2 separate regions of the Homo sapiens genome follow, and region 2 is linked to region 1. The links come from fine-mapping of genetic effects on gene expression. A gene starts in region 1. The other region holds a variant in brackets. All regions are shown on one strand. Distances are between the middles of the regions.

The links.
Region 2: its variant is fine-mapped to the expression of KCNK17 in spleen (GTEx, PIP above 0.99). The same link has a PIP of 0.9 or more in tibial nerve.

What each region holds. Positions count from the first base shown.
Region 1 is chr6:39,311,442-39,316,805 of GRCh38, forward strand. It overlaps KCNK17 (potassium two pore domain channel subfamily K member 17), which reads right to left and starts at 2,978. Exons shown (of 5, transcript NM_031460.4): 1 at 2,643-2,978. The coding sequence starts at 2,879. KCNK16 (potassium two pore domain channel subfamily K member 16) reads right to left here. Exons shown (of 5, transcript NM_001135106.2): 4 at 5,341-5,364; 5 at 4,730-5,001. The coding sequence ends at 4,778. LOC105375047 (a long non-coding RNA gene) reads left to right here and starts at 2,515. Exons shown (of 3, transcript XR_926774.3): 1 at 2,515-2,783.
Region 2 is chr6:39,342,244-39,347,607 of GRCh38, forward strand. It overlaps KIF6 (kinesin family member 6), which reads right to left. Exons shown (of 23, transcript NM_145027.6): 20 at 4,233-4,283; 21 at 3,457-3,546; 22 at 1,466-1,572. It overlaps LOC105375047 (a long non-coding RNA gene), which reads left to right. Exons shown (of 3, transcript XR_926774.3): 3 at 396-458. Among named protein-coding and RNA genes, the nearest start is that of KCNK16, 22 kb to the left of the region's middle. RefSeq lists enhancers at 1,052-1,101, 1,084-1,921, 2,596-3,097. The variant C/A (reference allele first, on the strand shown) is at 2,628.

The sequences.
Region 1 (5,364 bases):
TATGATGCAGTCAATGTCACTTTGGGCATTAAGGAGGAAGTGCAGCTACACAATCCTGGGCAAGGTGCTCAACTTCTCTCTGTGCCTCAGTTTCCTTACCTGTATAATGGTAATACAAATAGTACCTACTTCATAGAGTTGTTGTGTTAAATAAGGTATTATGTGTAGACTTAGTACCTGGCACATGGTGTTAGCAGTTGCTATATTGCCTATATGCATTATATAGGCATATAATGTTGTAGGACTCTGGGGAAGAAGGATGTTCATTCTCATTTGGGTAGGAGCAGAGGCCTCATGGAGAATGGGATGTTTTAGCTGGGCCTTTGAGGGTCAGGTAGGATTGCTTCTGGTGGAAGGATGTTTAGGTAGATGGGACAGCAGTGCAGAAGGTGGGAGGTGAGACTGCCTGGGACCTAGATTAGGGAGACTGGTAAGAAGTGATTGAGGCCAAGCTGTGCTTGGCTTTGCCATGCCAGGGATGAAGTCGCAGGTATCAGCCAAGGTCACTGAGCAAAGGGGAAGTAGGATCAGGTTTGTGTGCTCTGTGGCAGCTGGCAGTATAGAAAGGGTTGACCAGAGGGGAGAGACTCCTGCAGAAGTGAGTGATAGACGGGCCCTGGCCTGTCTCCTGGCACAGGTGGTCCAGGAGGAACAGAGAGGAGATATTCAGAAGCCCAGGCCTCTGGCCCTATTTAGTATGGGCAGTAAAGGAGATGTTGCAGAGGATTGTGAGGGTGTGTGGACATGGGGCAGACAATCGAGATTTAGGACAGGTGGAGAAGCAGGGCTGGGAGGAGGAGGACCACTTGCTCTTGGCCTTGAGGAATTTCAGAAGTTGCATGTCCACATCTGGTGCTCAGAAAGATCTGGGCTGGATACCACATCCTTATTCCTGGAGTTGGCTGAAGCCACAGGAGTGTTGAGGAAGGGGGTGAGGTGGGGGTGGAGGGAGTTGAAGGGAAAGCCCAAAGAGATGACAGCCTGGCTGGGAATCTTGGGAAGCACCCACATCCACAGGTCCACACTGAGGCAGTATTTATGCTGGTTAACAGCTCCAGCTCCTGGCTATGTAGCCATGCATTCGTATGTAACCTCTCTGAGCCTGTTTCTTCACCTCTGAAACAGGATGATAAAAACAGTACCCACCTGTGAGGGTGAAACAGGATGATAAAAACAGTACCCACCTGTGAGGGAGGTGAGACAAATGAATACGGGTAAAGTACCAGCAACAGTGCTTGGCACACGATAAGTGCTGCACAGAGGCATTTACTGTTATTATAATCACCATCATAGCCATCTCCCTGGGCCCAGGCTGCTTGTAGTCGAAGTTCACCACCTTTGCAAGGGTAATGGCAGGCAGCCTCAGCACCAGGACCCAGCAGTCGGGCTGTATTTGCAGAAGTCCGCAGGTGGGGAGCTGGAGGAATCACTTTAGGTCCTTAGTAGAGATAGGCCTGGCCCTGGCTACCTCCTGACCTCACCGAATCGGCCTAGTCCGAGGGTTCAGAACACCACTTCCGCTCCGCGCTGGGTCCCTTCCCACCCTGGCACGGTTCCCTGCCACCTTCCGGGGATTGGCTTTGGACTGGAGACTCTGGACGGATAAGCCACCAGGACTGCAAGACGGGGATTCTGGGCTGGCGCGCAGCTGTCTGGACTCTGGGCTCTTGGACGAAGGGGTGGGGAACCAAGCCAGGACCCAGGACATCAATGCCTCCGCCAAATCGAGCAGCTGCCAGTCTGGCGTCGCTTCAGTCCTAAGATGCGCCACCCCTAGAACCCTCCCCGGCCTCCTCCGCCCTGCTAGGCCCCACCCTTGAGGAGCCTCTGCTCAGATTTACCTCTGAGTCCTCCCCTGAACCCTGCCTTCAGCCTTTCTGGGCAGCCGCGCGGCGGCGGCGCGCCCAGTCCTTGTGTCCGAAGACTCGGAGTAAAGCGGGTTCAGCCAGAGAGCGGCCCTGCGTCCGCCCTCCTCTCGAACCCGGGTCTGCGCACGTCGAGCCCCCTCTCTGCGTTGAGGGTGGCCCCGACCAGCACGCCTCGGGCCCAATCCACCCACCCTCCGGGACAAACGCGCCTTCCCCCAGGCTCCTACGGCCGCGCCCTCGCTCCTGCGCATCCTTAGACCCGGCGCCCCTGCCGTCCCAGCTCCCAGTTCGCAAACGTGCGCCCGGGTTCCCCCTCTGGAAGCGGCCAGGTGTGGCGTTTAGCTCTTTGCCACGGGTGCGGGTGCGACCAACCCCCAAGCAGGCTCAAACGCGCCCTTTCCCGGGTCAGGCCGGGCGGGGCCGGTTACGCGCGCGCCCCCTGCCGTAGTCGTCCTCGCCCCCAAATTTGGATGTGTCCCCAGGCATCTGCCTCCTCACCGGGCCAGCATGCCCTCTCGCCCCCAAGTAGGACTCAGCCCGGCTTCTCGCAGTCCTCTCGCTAGGGCGAGGGTCTTTTCCTCCGAGGTCCCCCAACCCTCTGGTCCCCGCGCAGGAACGCCCACCCCCGTTGTGCCCGCGTCTGCGTTCCCGACGTTTCCCTGAACAGGAAACACCTGACCAGGGCCTGAATAGGCCCCCTCGCCCTCGGCCCGTACACCCCGCGGCCCGCTACCCCATCCCGCCGCGCCCAGGCCGACGCCGCTCGCCCCTGACCCGGATCAGCGAGTCCAGCGCCGGGCGGTCCAGACACGTGAAGTTCTGCAACAGCTCCCACTTGTCGCGCTGGAAGCTGCGGCTGGAGTCCTGCGCCGCGCGGCCCTCCAGCGTCCAGAACACGCCGGTGCCCAGCGCCAGGTAAGCCAGGTAGGCGAGCAGCAGGAGCACGGTGCTGGGCACCGCGCAGCCCCGGACCCTGCCCTCGGGAGCCGCCCGGGCTCGCGGTCGGTACATAGCGGGAGAGGCGGGGAGCCGGCGCCGGGAGCGGTGGACTAGGACCCGGTGGGAGGGAAGGGCCAGGCGTCCAGCTCGTATCTCCTCTCGCAAACGCCTGCTGGTGCCCGGTTTCGCCGGGGAGGAGGAGTGTTGGGGAATGGGACAGCCTGGCCCCACCCAGCCCTGGGATCCAATCCCCGGGACAAAAAGAGGCTCTGAACTGTGGGCATCTGGCCCCGCCTCAAATGTGTGCGGGGTGCCCACCTGCTAGGCCTAGGCCAGGGAGAAGGAGGAAGCTGCTGGGTGACCGCAGGCGCTGAGGGAAGGGGCCCAGAGCCCCCTCACATTTCCTGAAATGAACAATGGGAGGGACTTCTGGAAACCGCACTCAGAGGTAGGAGATAGTAGAGACCAACTTTATTGTCTTGGGGCCCCTGCCTAAGTTCTTGGACTCGGGGGCTATCTCCAAGGACTTGCTGTCTGTCAATCTCAAGACCACCTTGGGTCTCCCACACCTCTGTCCTTTCCTTTGTACCCCAAAAGAGGGACCCCAGCTGATTGCCACTTGTCCATGAGCTTGGGAGGTAAGAGGAGCCTTAACCAAGAGGCTTGTCCACTCCTTGCTTCTGAGAAGGCCCCCGAAATCCCTCTACCTGGAGTGGAGGAAGCGTCTAGGCTGTGTGAAGAGTCCGTGGGTCCTCAGCTTCCCAGTCCTTTCTTGGATATGGGGAAGTCCTGGGGTGTGACTTGGACTCCTCTTGCTGCTGTAGAGCCTCTCCTGGGTCTCCTGCCTGGAGCCGCCTTGGCTCCACAGCCTTGCCTCAGACCTGTGCAGAGGAACCCAGCCACATAGGAGCCCACTTGCTGTTGGATGATGGGAGAGGCAAAGGCCAAAATTTCCAGGCCCCGGGATGGAGTGGTCTAAATCTCTCCTGGTCAGGGATGTTGCAGTCTGGCAGGGGAAAGGCCAGACCTGGAGAATGCATTCCTGAGAGAGGCCAGACGTTCATGGAGCTCACTTTCTGGAAGGATCCTGGGATCTGCTGGCTCTCTGGCTTCCCATGGGGTGTTTGGAAAGGCTCTTGAGAAGGCAGGAGCCCAGAGGGAGTGATGAAGTTAAGGGGGTGGCCTGTGAGGGTCAGGGGAGGCCATGTTCAGGAAAGTGGGTAGGACACCCAAGAGGTCCTAAGCTTTGTTCACAGACAGCCCTGGACTTCTAGGCAAGGGGAGCTGGCGAGCTTTGAGAGGCAGCTCGCCTGCCCCTCGGCTGAGAGCTTCCTGAGGGCAGAGATCCTCTTTTCACTAAGATTGTTCCAAAGTCTCTGCCCAGGTCTCCCCTCTCTTTGATGCTCCCTGCCAGCCATTCCCATGGGCTCTCATCAACCCTGGGGCTATTCCCATCATAGCATTTTGGGCACTGTGTTGGGGCTGCCTCTTTGCTTGCCTAGCAACTAAAGGCACATCAAGGGCAGGCACTTCCACTGCTGTATCCCCAGACCCTGGCACAGACCCTGGCACAGCACCTGGCACATAGTAGGGGCTTGGCAAATGCACTGTGCACATATCAAATGAGGCAAAAGTAAAGTCATCCTTTGTTTGTGTAAGGTCTCCTGGAAGGGGGCATGGGGAGGGCAGTGGAGATCTGGCCACTACCTTTGGGTGGAAGGCTGTGGCAGGGGCTCTGGGACAAGGGTACACCTCCCCATCCACACATGTCTTTAATCCTATCTCACGTCTCCTCTCTGTTACTTTCTTGGATATACCTGTCTCCTTTCTCTCTTGGGAGAGCTCCTGAGACCAGCCCTGGCTGAGAAGTGAGGGGGTTGGGAGAGGAGAAAGCAGGGCTGGAAATCCAGAGAGCAGATAGGGTGGGACTGGGGAGGATGAAAGGGGTTTCTGGGCCCCCCCCGGGGGCCTCATGCAGAGATGGGGATCTTCTGAGGCCTGGGGAGCCCACTGGGGTCAGAGGCTGCCCCATCCTTGACGCCGAGGCCCCTACTGAGCAGCCAGAGCTGGCAGCATCTGTGCAGAAGCAGGGGGCCCAGTGGGAGGATCAGCGCCAGCCACGCCAGGCCCAGGAGGATCCAGATGGCTGCCAGGCTCCGATACACTGAGATATAATGCTTGCTGGGGTCTGTGCCTGCCAGGGAAGGGAATGGCATCAATGCCAGGGGTCTCAGGGCATAGCCACCTCCAGTTTCCATAGGGACCCTCACCAGCCAGGATGCTCTCTCCCTCTTCCTCATAACAAGGAACAGCAGTTGAGGTAGGTCTCTGCAGGGTGGTGATGGGTCCTAGACCAGAAACTTCTGAGAATGTTGCTTAGAATCCACAGTAGTCCCAGAAATCATTGGTTTGGCTCCCTTGAATGACCAAGGGCTATCTTATCCTCAATAGTTGTCCTCAGCTGACATCTCTCCATCCCCCAAATCCCAGTGGGCACCCCCACCCTGAGATAATGTGACTGTTTTGTTCTCACCAACAACATAGTCCCCAAAGCCAA
Region 2 (5,364 bases), 31 kb after region 1:
CAAGGCCTCCCCAACCTACCCAGCTAAAAGCAGTCTTCCCAGTTACTGTCTACAACATTACATAGTTTAGCTATTTCATAGCACTTATTATCCCCTCAAACAATCTTACGTATTTGTCGACGTGTTCATTGTCTGTCTCCTTCCTCCCCCTAGAATGTCAGTTTCTCACGTGCTGGGTTCTGTCTTGTTCTCTGCTGTAGCACCAGCACTAGTAGTAGTGCCTGGCATAAGAAGGCACCCAACATATACAGTGTTTGCTGACTGATTGGCTGTTCATTGCTGTTCAGTGCCTGATACCTATCATCAGAGTATTTGGGGCATAGATGGGGACTTGGAGATCACTGAATCCAGTTTTTTATTTTTTTTTATTTTTTTTTATTTTTTTTTATTTTTAGACAAGGAAACTGAGAATGAGACAAGATCACAGCAGAGGTGGGGCTGTCTCAGGCTTAAGAAAGGACCTGACAGTGTTGCTGAGGCTGCTGGTCCTGGTGGTGAAGAGAGGATAGTAAATAAGCAGGCTGGCGGCCAAGCAAGGCGAGTACAGGACCAAGGCCGGCTCTCAGTTGCGGCGCTCCATCCATGCACAAACCTCTTCCTGCCCAAACTGCACACGGCTGGTGGAGAAGCTGAGTGCAGGCGCCACAGGGCAGGCATCAGTCATTATACATCGAATCTGCCAGCCCATACCATCACGGTGGGGGCGCCTTTCTGGCAATGTGAAGGCAATGTTAAGCCTGCCTAGTAGCCTTTGGGTTATGGGGAGGAGGCTAAGACAAAATGCAGGCCTGGGGTAAGGGGCCCTGGGGCTTGCCCTGTGGGTGTGTTGGGGATGGAAGGCAGAAAGAGAAAAGGCCCAGCCACAGCAGATGGGAGATGGGCAGCTGCCAAGAGGACGGGGCTGGGGGTGGAGGGGGCAGTGATGCAGACCAAGAAGAGCCTTCTTCTCTTCCTGTTGTCTGACACGCCACTCTTACTTCCTCTGTGATTGTTATGGTGTCCTCGGGCCTGGGCCTTCAAGCAGTGTTTACACTCACAGCTCTTTGGCAAGAACCACACTCTGATAGGGGAGTGAGACTTTAAGCCAGGGGTTCAACGAGTTACCAAAACATCACTCAGCCCCTTCCTGTTTGTAGAAGCCTGAGCAGAGGAGACAGCTGACTTTGGGAACAGAGAACAAAGGAGCTGAAGATCTGGAAGAGACAGAGAGCAAGCTCTGCCAAGAGGGACAGGAGCACCTGGGCCGCCCACCCACTTGGGCCTGTCTTGGTGTTTCTGATGCTGCCCCTTGAGGCTTTCTCGAGAAGGAATCAGAGGCTGGGCACATGTGACTGACAGGCAGGCCAGTCCTGTGGCTTCAGGAATATGCAGGAAACTCCCTACTCCCCTCCCACCTCACTGTGTGCTCCCCACAAGTGTTGGTGACCTGCTGCCCAGGAGGAGCCACCGAGGGAGGTGCACTTACATTGCTTCTGCAGAATGCTCTGTCTGGCCTTGATGAAGGCGATGATGTCCGAGTCCGTCTGGCTGTCTCCGGTGAGAGGGATGGACGACACTGGCCTCTTGGGGATGCTGGAGGCAACCACGTGTCACATTTTACTACACTTTACAACTGGACTCACCACTTATATTTCCAAAATGCTTTTCCATTTTAGGTGACTGATCTCACTCAGAAAGCTACATGACACGGCTGGCCTGCTTCTCACTCCCTCCTACCTTCTCTGTGTGGCAGCCACACTAAGCCTCTTGTCATGCAAATTGGGTCAAGTCATTCCCTGCCATAGACCCTGATATGGTTTGGCTGTGTCCTCACCCAAATCTCATCTTGAACTGTAGCTCCCATAATTTCCACGTGTTGTGGGAGGGACCAGGTGGGAGATAACTGAATCATGGGGACGGTTTCCTCCATACTGTTCTCGTGGTAGTGAATAAGTCTCATGAGATCTGATGTTTTCATACGAGGTTTCCCCTCTCACTTGGCTTTCATTCTGTCTTGGCTGCCACCATGTAAGACGTGCCTTTCACCATGATTGTGAGGCCTCCCCAGTGACATGAACTGTGAGTCCATTAAATCTCTTTTTCTTTATAAATTACCCAGTCTCAGGTATGTCTTTATCAGAAGTGTGAAAACAGACTAATACAGACCCTTTAGTGGCTTTTCACCACTCATGGAATAAAACTTAAACTCTGTCCCATGACCTACCAGGCTGTGTATGATATGACCCCGGGTCAGGGGCTCCAGCTGCCCCCTTTTCTTTCAGTGACTTGCATTTACCAAGCCACTTCCAGCCTCAGGGCCTTTGCTCTGATGCTTCCTCTCCCTGGACTGCCCTCCCCACCACCCGTCACATGGCGGCTGTGCTTTCTCTCGCTGCCTTCTCTATCCTCTTACCACCACCACTCTTGTCCTCCCATCCCTGATTTACCCAAACCAGCACCCCTTAACCTGGGGCCCATCAACTTCTGTGCCCAGCTTAGATGTCATATCATTCAGTGCTGTGTCCTCAGAGCACCCTCATTCCCCACGTGGCTTAGCTAGTTGACCTCAAGGCAGAGATTACTGTTCTCCTGTCTCTCCTTAAAAACAGAATCATATTTAGCTAAGTTGCCACAACTAAAAAAACTAC[C/A]TTTCCCAGACTCCTTTGCTGCGATGTGTGGCCGGGTGACCAGGTGCTGGCCAATGAGATTTGTAAGTAGAAGTGTTGTGTGGGAATCTCCTTAGAAAGGGAGGGCTGTGTGTGCCCTCCCCCATCCCCTTTTCCATCCAGCTTCTCCATATAGCATTCCCCTTCAGCAAACTCAGAGCAGTACACTTGCCTGGCCTTGCCAACTTTCCGTCCATCCTCACCCCTGTGCCTCTGCACAGCAGGAGGTGGTAGCCACTTCCTTAGAAGGCAGTAAGGACGGTATGTAACAAGGGGCTGGCCATTCCCGCAGGTAGTTTGGGTGTTGGCTTTCCCGCTGCAGGCCAGCCGGAAGCACTAAAGCAGAGTCCAGGCAGGCAGGGCAGAGGCTGTGCTGGTGAAAGAGGCTGAGCAGCCATTCTAGCCGGAGGATACAAATGCCCATGGTGCTGATCAACTCTGGTAAGCCTGGAAGCAAATGCTGCTGGGTCTTCAGGCCAGGCTTGTCAGCTCCCTGCTCTGCTCTGTGGTGGGGCTGCCCTGGGCTGGCTCTTTCCCTTTCTGGCCCCCAGGTACGTCTATTCACAAGAAGATATGAAACAACTCTGCCCAACACAGGGCCCTGGTGACTGTGGGAGAAAACCTCCCCGCTTTGAGTTGGCCTGTGTGAGAGATTCCAGGGAATTCCCAGGGGACCAGGGCAGAGGCCAGACCTGGGTTCTGTCTGTGTGGCTACTGGACGAGGGGCTTTTTCGGGGAGTAGACTGGAGATGGAGGCCCACTCCGCCCACTGCAGGGGCTGTCACAGGCATAACAGGAGAAGACCACAGACCTGTCTTCCAGTGGGGTGCTGGTGCTGCTCTGTTTCTGGCTGTGTGGACTGGGGCAAGGCGAGGGCAGGATTTTCCTGGCATTCACATCACTGCAAAACACAAACAAACAAAAGCAAAAGGAATGGGGGCAAATTTATAGAAGGAAATTCAGGGTTTATATCTAGGAGCTGTTATGGACTGAATGTGTCCTCTCAAAATCCCTATGTGGACACCCTAATTCCCAGTGTGATGGCATTGGGCAGTGGGGCCTTTGGGAGGTGAATAGATTTAGATGAGGTCCTGAGGGTAGGGCCCCTGCACTGGGATTAGTGTCCTTATAGGTATAAGAGGAGGATGAGAAACTACAGTGCTCTCTCTCTCTCTCTCTCTCTCTCTCTCTCTCTCTCCCCCCCCTCTCCCTCCCCCCCTCCCTCTCCCTCTCCCTCCCTCTCCCTCTCTCTCTCTCTCTCTCTCTCTCTCTCTTTCTCTCCTATGTGAGCACACAATAAGAAGGAGGTGCCAGCAAGCGAGGAAGGAAGCCCTCAGCAGGAACTAAATCTGCTGTGCTACGGACTGGAGGTTTGTGTCCCTGAAAAGTCATGTGTTGAACCTAATCTCCAATGTAATGGTAGTAGAGGTGGGGCCTTTGGGTGGTGATTAAGTCATGAAGGTAGAACTCTCATGAATGGGATTAGAGTCCTTATAAAAGAGACATTGGAGAGCTCCCTTGCCCCTTCCACCATGTGAGGATGCGTCGAGAAGACAGCTGTCTATGAACCGGGAAGGGGGTCCTCACCAGACATCGAATCTGCCAGTGCCTTGATCTTGGACTTCCCAGCCTCCAGAACTGTGAAAAATAAACGTTTGTTGTTTGAGCCACTCAGTCTATAGTATTTTGTTATAGCAGCCTGAGCAGACTAAGACAAGAGCCAAGAGTCCTGTCTTGGATGGTTTACACAGTAATTTTCTTTTTTTCTTTTTTTTTGAGATGGAGTTTCACTCTTGTTGCCCAAGCTGGAGTGCAGTGGCATGATCTTGGCTCACTGCAACCTCCGCTTCCTGGGTTTGAGCAATCCTTCTGCCTCAGCCATCCAAGTAGCTGGGATTACAAGCATGCATCACAACACCTGGCTAATTTTTTGTATTTTTAGTAGAGATGGGGTTTCACCATATTGGCCAGGCTGGTCTTGAACTCCTGACCTCAGGTGATCCACCCACCTTGGCCTCCCAAAGTGCTGGGATTACAGGCGTGAGCCACTGTGCCCGGCCTACACAGTAATTTTCATTGTTAGAGCATGCATCTGTTGGCTGTAGCAGCTGAACAACAAACGATGGCCACAACTGTCATTGATAGACACGCCAGGCTTCGTGAAAGTGCTCTGCAAATATCATGCCATTTAATCCTCTCAATGACCTAAGAGGTAGATGTCATCGTCTCCATTTTATACATGAGAAAACTGAGGCTTAGACAGATTAAAGAAATTCTAAAGTTATCCAGCTGGTAAGTGGCAGAATCGGGAACTACTCAGGATTCTTTGAGGCTTCAGAACCTGTGCTCTCAGCCACAATGCCTTCTAACTGGGCTTGACTCTGTGGCATTCTAGGAACACACGCTGGCCTACCCCTGACCACACTGCCTGCCCCTGGGACCTAGCTTCATGCTGAGAGAGGAGTCAGATCCAACAGCTCATTAGATGCAGCTGTGCCTGCTCACCTAGGCTGCTGACATGTGCGCCTTGCCTTGGATTCCTGGCCAAGTGCAGTGGAACCCAGAAGCTCCTCTTGGGAGGTGAAGAGGCGCGTGGACACGGCTGGTTGGAGGCCAGTGTATTCCACATGCCTGTGGTTACAAGGTCCTTACTCTAAGTTGTGCTGTAAGGAGATCTTCCTCGCTTCCTGCCTGGAGACAACCTCAGAGCTGGAAGAGG